Linked DNA regions of Homo sapiens: all the other regions are reported to be linked to region 3. The links are microRNA targets in miRTarBase. Many come from high-throughput screens and were not tested one by one. Region 3 holds a microRNA gene; each other region holds the end of a gene's coding sequence. Distances are from middle to middle.
What was found. The annotated mature microRNA hsa-miR-28-3p reads CACUAGAUUGUGAGCUCCUGGA and lies in region 3 at 1,456-1,477, shown strand. An mRNA with a match to its seed (bases 2 to 7 or 8) in the 3' UTR can be bound and repressed. Matches are read on the target gene's strand: a 7mer-m8 pairs with bases 2 to 8, a 7mer-A1 pairs with bases 2 to 7 and ends in A, and an 8mer does both.

Region 1 (3,237 bases), 160 Mb from region 3:
AGTTCTTATGGCAGAAATTCTCTGGAAGACAATTCCTGGGTATTTCCAAGTCCTCCTAAATCAAGTGAGACAGCATTTGGGGAAACTAAAACTAAAACTTTGCCTTTACCCAACCTTCCACCACTGCATTACTTGGATCAACATAATCAGAACTGCCTTTATAAGAATTAATTTGGAAGAGATTCACGATTTCACCATGAGGACACTTATCTCTTTCAGTGGTCCTCCCAAGAAATTATTTAACAAACTGAAAGGAGATTTTGATTAAAATTTTGCAGAGGTCTTCAGTATCTATATTTGAACACACTGTACAATAGTACAAAAACCAACATAGTTGGTTTTCTAGTATGAAAGAGCACCCTCTAGCTCCATATTCTAAGAATCTGAAATATGCTACTATACTAATTAATAAGTAAACTTAAGGTGTTTAAAAAACTCTGCCTTCTATATTAATTGTAAAATTTTGCCTCTCAGAAGAATGGAATTGGAGATTGTAGACGTGGTTTTACAAAATGTGAAATGTCTAAATATCTGTTCATAAAAATAAAAGGAAAACATGTTTCTTCAAATTGCATAATGGAACAAATGGCAATGTGAGTAGGTTACATTTCTGTTGTTATAATGCGTAAAGATATTGAAAATATAATGAAATAAAAGCATCTTAGGTTATACCATCTTTATATGCTATTGCGTTTCAATATTTAAGATTTAAAGTGATTTTTTGGTCACAGTGTTTTGTTGATAAAATTTTTTTAGAATTGAAGTTTGAATTCTAAGACTTGAAACAACCTGATCACTGAAGCCAACTTTGTCCCAGCACATTCCTTAAGTCCTAATTGGGAAAAAAAAAAAAAAAAATGAAATAGTTGAAAAACTCTGGGGTGTAAACAAATGATTGTAACCCTACACACTATTCAATAAGTAGTAGAAGGAGCATCACACAGATTTCAGTCTAATCTGCCCTTCTGTGGGCCATAATATAAACATAAATGTGTGTAATGATAAAAAGTCATTTTCTTCAAAGAGACTACAGCTAGCTGCACATTGTGTAGAGCAGCTTCTAAATTGTTAGACTTTGTGTTGAAATGTAATATTCTATTTATTGAGAAAGTGATTTAAAATTATTATTTTTAATCATAGAAATCAGGGTTTGGGCTGTATTGATATTGTCGATCATGAAATGTCCACACTTATTCTAAGTGGCCAATTATTTGGAAATAAAGAAGGAAATAAAGATGGCTTCACATGGAAATTTAAGTTCTTTCAGGGTGGAGATTTACTTGGTTCATACACCTTTTGCCTGAATTAAAGTATTTCATGTAGGAGGACTTTTATCCTTTTTGATAGACAGTTTCATATATCTTGAACTCAATATCTCAGATCTCTTCTACTGTATTACTGAATAGCATACATACATAGACAATGTTCGCCATTCACTAGATATTTTTTTCTATTATCTTACACTTATTCAAGCTTGTCTGTGATTAATGGAATTGGTGTCAGATGCTGGAATTTATTCTGACCAATGAACACAGCTGACTCAGGGGAGTACAATCTCCTGCCAAGTAATAGAACCAAACCCAATATGCATAAAAGAAATACAATACTCCAGGCTTTAGCTGAAGGAAGCAACTACCTGTGTAATAACAAAGCAGCAAAAACTATTTCTCATGTGGCTGCATAGGCTGTATATTATATCTGATCTCTAATGTAGCTTACTGGTTTGCCTTTTTTAAAACCAAAATTGGAAATTTTCCTTTGTAAAGAAAAAAAGTCTTATGAGATAATTGCTTGATTAATGTTTTGAACAATACCAAGAAATTGTTTAATTAAAATAAATATTTTTGTTTGAAATTGAAGTGGATGTGAAATATTGTCCTTGCCTATAGATCTCAAAATCTAGTACTAATTGTTGGTTGTTAATATGATTCATACAATAGACATTTGTTAAACCAGCTTTTGAGTGGAGAAAATTATTTTCCATTTAAACAGTACAGTGATGATAGCTATCAAACAGGTATACTAAAAAGTCAGTGACTGTGACAGTTTAAAGTGTTAGACAAATGATGTATAAGGTTCTTTAGTAAGGAAAGATTAGCCAAAAATTTTTTACCCAGCTAGAAGCTTTTAAATCTACACTTGATATCTCTGTTCTAGGTAAAATTCAAACAACCAAAAAACAGTGGCCCATCTGTAGCTTATGAATCTATTTAAAATTGAATATTTTATGTTGACTTCTTTCATACTAGCTGAAACTTGCTCTAAAGAGCTTCCTTTGGAATCTTTAGATTTCTTTTTATAAGGTTCAATTCAGTACATCCATAAATCGACAGAATGAAGAAAACATAACAAAAAGCCACCTATTCCTTCCTCTTGCTCCCTTATTAGCTAAAGTAAAATTTACATCTGTAAGACTTACTGAGTTGCTGCCAAAATGGAACTGAATTCTTAAAAGCAGGAACATGCCTATGTGAAACATTAGAAAACCAAAATAAATGGGAAAATTCAGACTTGAAGAGCTGAATCATGTGACAACAAAGTACTGATCTTAATTCAGAAAGGCTACTTGGAGAAGGTGTATCTTAAGGGGTAAAAAACCTGTGGGTTACCACATATTAACAGGGAATAATATCAACAGAGGCACCCATAAGCAAGCAAGACACAACTGAGACAGATGTACCAGGTGAAAAAAATCTTCAGTATGGATACACATGGGTATTCTGAAGGCTACAATGAATGGTTTAGTCTTTGACATAAGGAGGATGAACATATTATTTATACTGTGTAATCTAATCTGGCTTCTATGGGGAAAGCAACATGTACATAAGTGAATTTTCTACATGAAGTGGGCTACTTCTGATTTTAATCAAAGCTATAAAATAGATTGTATATTTCACTAGCTTCTTAAAGTAACTCTTCCATTTTCATTTATCTCTAAAAACAGTTAACTTCCTGTGCTCTAGGAAATGCACCAATACCAAAGGTCAATGTGGAAATATGGGCATGTTTGCCCCTATGCTGTGTGGTCTCTAGATTTCTATATTTGCTTTGCTTTTGTCTGCTCTAGTAATCTCCCTCCTTTTGATCTGTGGCCTGGGAAAATGTGGTTTCTTTGTATTTCAAATAAAAGTAAAATAGTTTTTTGAGTGGTTCACTCAAGAGTAAAGTGTGGAACTTGAATTGATTCTTTAGTGTCCTATTTAAATTCTTTCTTAAAAAAAAATCTCTCAGATCTAT
Region 2 (3,220 bases), not on the chromosome of region 3:
TGGACAGACGCCTTCGTGGGCCTGAGCACTTGCGGCCGGCACATGTCCGCTCACCGCGTGTCCGGGGCCCTGGCGCGGGTCCTGGAAGGTACCCTAGCGGGCCACACCCTGACAGCCGAGCTGATGGCGCACCCCGGCTACCCCAGTGTGCCTCCCACCGGCGGCTGCGGTGAAGGCCCCGACGCTTTCTCTTGCTCTTGGGAGCGGCTGCATGAGCTGCGCGTCCTCACCGCGCCCACGCTGCGGGCCCAGCTTGCCCAGGATGGCGTGCAGCTTTGCGCCCTCGACGACCTGGACTCCAAGAGGCCAGGGGAGGAGGTCCCCTGTGAGCCCACTCTGGAACCCTTCCTGGAACCCTCCCTACTCTGACCCCCTACAGACAACCAAGCACTAATCCCCTTAGTACCAAGAAAGGGGAGCCAGGATTTAGTCCTGGCCCAGCCCAGAGCTGGGACCTGGAGCACGATCTGTTGACTTCCCTGGGTAGGACACTGCCACCTCTGGGCTCAGGTCCTCATGCCTCCAAATGGCATCTAGAGTTTGAGCAGCCTTCTTGGCTGCAGGCAGGCCTAGCCTGTGGCAGCGGGCTAGGGCCCGCAGAGCATTTGGTGCCCCTCCATGTTGCAATGCAAACACCTTCACCACTGGGGCAGTGGGGAGAGATGGCTATATTAATAAAATAACGTGTGTCTTTCAAACTTGGGTGGTTTATCAGCTGTGCCCAGGAGACCCTCAGAGAAACAAGCACGGACAAAGAGCAGCTCCCTCTTGGCTCAAACCACTCCAGGAAATGGCCCATTCTCCATTCTGGTTTTGTTCATGCTGCAATTTTCTTTATTCCTTTTTAGGGTGGGAGTGGGAGATTGTCCTCACCAGGCTGCTTTGGAAGAGGCATAATACTATAATCTCAGTATTGATTTAAGAAGTCACCTGTAGGCTGAGTGTGGTGGCTCACACCTGTAATCCCAGCACTTTGGGAGGCCGAGGCGGGCAGATCACCTGAGGTCAGGAGTGCGAGACCAGTCTGACCAACATGGAGAAACCCCATCTCTACTAAAAATACAAAATTAGCTGGGCATTGGTGGTGCATGTCTGTAATCCCAGCTACTGGAGAGGCTGAGGCAGGAGAATCGCTTGAACCCGGGAGGCGGAGGTTGTGGTGAGCCGAGGTCGCGCCCCTGCACTCCAGCCTGGGTAACGAGCGAAATTCCATCTCAAAAACAAAAGTCATCTGTTTAGATGTAAGCCATTCTACGGGATAGGCGTGAGGAGACCCTGCAACCCTGTGGGAATACATTTAAATTTTTCTAGGAGGAGCAGTCTTCCCGGGAAATGGGATACCATGGTTCCTAACTTCTGGCAATGTAGGGATGCCCTGTGGACTGGGGCCGCATGTGGCTTAGCTGAAAGCTCCTGAGGTGCAGGAGCAGATGGGGAAGGCAGTGCGAGTCCTCTAGAGCACAGAGTCCTTCTGCACCACTCCGCAGGATGGAAAGGCAGATGGAATACCATGTGGTCCTTGTCTCATTTCATGAAATAGCATCTATGAGGCAGGCACCGATGTCCCCATTTTACAGGGGTAGAGGCAGGAGTGGCAGAGCAGGGCTTTGAAACTACTCATTCATTTATTTAATGTGCACTGGGCCCTAGCCTGGGCCAAACATGGAATCAGGGGCCAAGAGAGCTCTCATCCAGCCTAGGCAGCTTGGAGAGACGTGTGGCTTTCTGAAGGGTGAGTGTGGGATGTCGCTCCTCCTTCCTGCTTCTACCCACTCATGGCCCCATCCCCTTGACTGTGGCTTCAGTCCCTTTTTCTGGCTCCACACTCGTCTTCCATCTTGACCTTCACTAGACTTGGACTCTCCCATCTGCAGCACTTTTCCTGCTTTCTTGCACCCATGCTTGTGAGCTGGAATCACTGTACAGTTGCTCCTCCTGCTGCCTAGCCTCCACCTCCTCGCCTCAGCCTGCTGAGATCTGGCCACACTCCTGCAGGCTGCTGGCTAAGGCTGGGAGAGGGGTGGCCTGAAGTTAGCCGGGGATACAGACGTAGCTCCCTTGAGGGGCTTCTGTTATGGAAGTGTTCTGAGAGGAGGAGGCAGCTGGTTGTGCAGCTTTAGGCTCAGGAGAGGTGTGGGTGGGCAGGAGAGACCTGGGGGTCTGCACAGATGCTATATGAGTGGCTACTGTCACTCAGGGAGGGAAGGAGGGATGAGCAGAGTCGACAGCAGCCCTGGGGACCGTGAGACTTTTTTTTTCTTTTTAAAGACAGGATTTCATCCTGTCACCCAGGCTGGAGTACAGTGGCACAATCACGTCTCTGCAGTTCTCCACCTCCCCAGGCTCAGGTGATCATCCCACCATGGCCTCCTGAGGAGCTGGGAGCACAGGCATGCCTGGTTCATTTTTGTATTTTTTGTAGAGATGGGGTTTTGGCATGTTGCCCATGCTGGTCTCAAACTGCTGGGCTCAAGAGATCTGGTCACCTTGGCCTTTCCTAAAGTGTTGGAATTAACAGGCATCAGCCACAGCAGCCGGCTGACCATGAGCATTTGAGTGAAGTGAAGCCAGGCACAGTGGCTCACACCTATCATCCCAGCACTTTGGGAGGCTGAAGTGGGAGGATCACTTGAGCTCTGGAGTTCCAGACCAGCCTAGACAACATACTAAGACCTTATTTCTGTTATTTAAAAAAGAAAAAATAATGGCTGGGCATAGTGGCTCACGCCTGTAATTCCAGCACTTTGGGAGGCTGAGTCGGGAGGAAGGCTTGAGGCTAGCAGATTGAGACCAGACTGTGTAACATGCCAAAACCCTGTCTCTATAAAAAATACAAAAATTAGCCGGGTGTAGTGACACAAGCCTGTAGTTCCATCTACTCAGGAGGCAGAGATAGGAGGATCGACTCAGCCTGGGAGGTAGAGGCTGCAGGGAGCAGTGATCATGCCACTGCACTCTAGCCTGGGTGACAGAGTGAGCCTGACTCAAAAAAAAAAAAAAAAAAAAAAACTGAAGTGAGGGGGCATAGACTGGTAGGATAATCAGGCCCACCTGATTATAATGAGGCCCATCTCACGAGGAGGTGAAAGTGATAAGGACCTGTTGGGGTGGTGACTGGTGGGCCACAGGGGCTGTGGGGGCAGCAACAGTGTCTTAGCCAAGCGGTTCACTGTTATCCGCCCACTCGGCATTCGTGTCTGGAGGGTCCACTCTGTGCTAG
Region 3 (3,258 bases):
ATTGTGATCCCCACATGTCAAGGGAGGGAGGTGATTGGATCGTGGGGGCCCTTCCCCCATGCTGTTCTCTTCATAGTGAGGGAGTTCTTATGAGATCTGAGATTTTTAAGGCAGTTTTCCTTGCTCTTGCTCGCTTCTCCCTCTGCTGCCACCTTGTGAAGAAGGTGCCTGCTTCCCCTTCTGCCATGATTTTAAGTTTCCTGAGGCCTCCTCTGCCATGCGGAACTGTGAGTCAGTTAAACCTCTTTAGAAATTACCCATTCTCAGGGAAGTTTTTTATAGCAGTGTGAAAATGGAGTAATTCAATGACCCTTTCTTACTGACTCATTGGTCTGATTTCTTGACCAAAGCTCTGAATATTCCCATGTCATCCTGTCTAACCAGCTGTCTTATACTCTTTTTTTTTTTTTTTTTGAGATGAAGTCTCGCTCTGTCGCCCAGGCTGGGGTGCAGTGGCACGATCTCGGCTCACTGCAACCTCCACCTCCCGGGTTCATGCCATTCTCCTGCCTCAGCCTCCCGAGTAGCTGGGACTACAGGCGCCCATCACCATGCCTGGCTAATTTTTTTGTATTTTTAGTAGAGACGGGGTTTCACCACGTTATCTTATTCTTAACAGTGTCTGAGGTATTTTTTTGAAACACAATTCTTACCTTAACTGCCCCAGGCACCACGGCAGAAGAACCATGACCTTGCTGAGAGGCACTGCATGCCAAATGAGACTTAGTTTTTCCAAAGTACTTGGGAGAAGAAAAACAATAATCTATATGATGGGCTTTTGGCCTAAACCCATATCCTTTAGATGACGGAATTTGGCACAGCTCATATTCTGGTTTAAAGAAAAATGTTTTGTTATGATGTCATTTGCCTAATTAATAGCAAAAGAGGATTGAATTTTCCCTATGCAATGTCATCTAGCCTTTGAGATTTTAGAGTTAATGACTCAAATCAATTGTCCTGTCTTCTGTGAAACCTTCCTGATGCCTTCAGTTGGATAAATCTACCCTTGGTGTTCATAAGGCATTATATTGATGCCTCTGATGTTATGCAGATATATCCCTTCTTGGCTTTGTTTGCCCATTCAATGAACATTTGTTGAACACCACCTATATGCCAAGATAGTTGGAAGATGGAAGTGTGGTACACAGAGGATGTGGAAGGGAATCACAGAAGATGAGACTATGAAGGCAGGCCCTTCAAGGACTTTCTAAGTAGTACTCAGGAGTTTGACAAAGAGGAGCTAGAAGAGGTTTGTGAAGTCAGATGAGTAATATAATTAGGTTTGTATTTTATGAAGGGCAACATCTAAATATGGCTTGTCTATTCAGCAAGCACTTATTAAGTGCCTTTTGCATGGTAGACAACATGCTTGATGCTGAAGATACAAGAAAAAATTTAAAATGGTCCTTGCCCTCAAGGAGCTCACAGTCTATTGAGTTACCTTTCTGACTTTCCCACTAGATTGTGAGCTCCTGGAGGGCAGGCACTTTCGTTCATCTGAAAAAGAGCTTAAATTTCAGTGTTAATCCTAGATTACAATCCCGCCTCTATTATTTTAACTTTGTTCACATCTGTTAACTGCTCTGAAAATCAGAGCTAATACTGCCTACCTCATCAGGGAAAGATTAAACGAGAAAAGAATGAGATGTGATTGACACAGCAGGAGCTCTGTGTATGCTATTTCCTCCTCTATCTCTGTGCCTGGTACATGGTAAACATTCAGGACACTTCTGCTGCCTGCTTGGCTGGAGAGCCTGTCTATGCAGCCTCAGTGTTGGGAGGATTTGAGCCTGGGGTCGGCCTGGCACCCAGCTATGGTAGTTAGCAAATCTATCCTCAGCTCAGTCAGTGATCAAATCACTGGCTCTAGGCTGTAAACTAACAGGGCCAGAATTGGGTTCTGGACTCTGAAGCCCAGGCATGCATATTGCAAAAGTCAGAATCGAAGTCATAGGAAAATGATGAAATTTCCTTTCTGGCCAGAATGCTATTATTTCACCAAGGGCAACAAATCTTCTTGGCAGGAAAAGTTGACTTGCTTGTGCTTTGTGTAATCAATTGTATTTGCAAGTGATGGAGTCCTTCTCACAGTGGCTTAGAGGAGGTGTTAACCACTATTCTACTCTCTACTTCCATGAGATCAACTTTTTTAGATTCCACACTTGAGTGAGATCATGCAATATTTATCTTTCTGTGCCTGGCTTATTTCACTCAACATAATGTCCTCCAGGTTTGTTTGACATTTCATTGTTTTCGGAGAATTTTCACAGTTCATTATCTCACTTCACAGTTCCTAATAGTCTCTCTGAGGTCCATATGGTAAGAATTAGTACCCTTTACTATATTTGTTGAATCACAAGTGAGCGGAGGAATGGGTATAGTTGAGACCCACAGAAGTGAAGTGACTTGCCCAAATCCATATAGCTTATTATGCTACCTGTTTGTTAGAGGTTTCCTGTTGTATCAGAAACTAGTGAGATAAATATTAGTAATTTTTGTCCCATTGACACATGATGGTATATCAGGAATTCTGAGCTCATTTTTTTTTTTTGGCTCAATAAGTGACCTTAGAAAATCCAGAATGGGATTTTTAAGTTGAATATCCTTCTCTGACCTGTGAAATCACTGCATCTGTTTCCCTGACTTTATCACAAGGTAACCCAAGATATTGCCAATATTTACATGTGACAAACTCTGAAAGATGTGCATAATGCTCCCAAAGGTCATCATCTTCATACCTACCTTATAAAGTGCAAATGGAATTGACCTAGTCTAGAATAAGCAGGCGAGATGCAGAGAGATTATGTGACATAGCTAGGTCATGTGACTAGTATGCAGCAGGCTTGGGGCATAAATCCTAGTCCTCTGGCTCCCGAGTCCAGTGTTCATTACGCTATGTGACATGTCAGTATTGCTGTTTGCTCGGGGTTAGGCTTTTCCTTTGGAGGTTAGAGCTTGATAACTCTAAATCGATAAACTTCTTAGTATGCCACAGTAATGCTAGCAGAAAGTATTTGTTGAAGCAAAAAATATGTTGTTTCAAGGGGTCTGCTCCCTGAAAGATAAGTTTTTTTCTTTATTTGTGGTTTTACATCTAATTTTTCTAATGTTTCAAAAAACATTCTGTGTTCCTTTAATCTACAAGTTGGAATGGATACGGTGCCCTAATTTTCGTGTTCCCTTTGAGCACAAGCAATAACACATTTTAAAGGATGATAAATAGCTGTGTAAAATGTAGATGGGTTCTATAAATACTTA

Region 1: the mRNA of AZI2 is a reported target of hsa-miR-28-3p. Seed matches in the 3' UTR shown: 7mer-A1 at 342-348, 8mer at 1,898-1,905 and 7mer-A1 at 3,063-3,069.
Region 2: the mRNA of YDJC is a reported target of hsa-miR-28-3p. The part of its 3' UTR that is shown has no 7-base or 8-base seed match.

The regions. Positions count from the first base shown.
Region 1 is chr3:28,320,976-28,324,212 of GRCh38, reverse strand. It overlaps AZI2 (5-azacytidine induced 2), which reads left to right. Exons shown (of 8, transcript NM_022461.5): 8 at 1-3,166. The coding sequence ends at 171. It overlaps CMC1 (C-X9-C motif containing 1), which reads right to left. Exons shown (of 4, transcript NM_182523.2): 4 at 1-3,237. Among named protein-coding and RNA genes, the nearest start is that of ZCWPW2, 26 kb to the left of the region's middle.
Region 2 is chr22:21,625,567-21,628,786 of GRCh38, reverse strand. YDJC (YdjC chitooligosaccharide deacetylase homolog) reads left to right here. Exons shown (of 5, transcript NM_001017964.2): 5 at 1-698. The coding sequence ends at 369. Among named protein-coding and RNA genes, the nearest start is that of YDJC, 2.8 kb to the left of the region's middle. RefSeq lists an enhancer at 324-931 and a silencer at 3,135-3,220.
Region 3 is chr3:188,687,379-188,690,636 of GRCh38, forward strand. It overlaps MIR28 (microRNA 28), which reads left to right and starts at 1,403; the gene lies at 1,403-1,488. All of the region lies in intron 7 of LPP (LIM domain containing preferred translocation partner in lipoma), which reads left to right.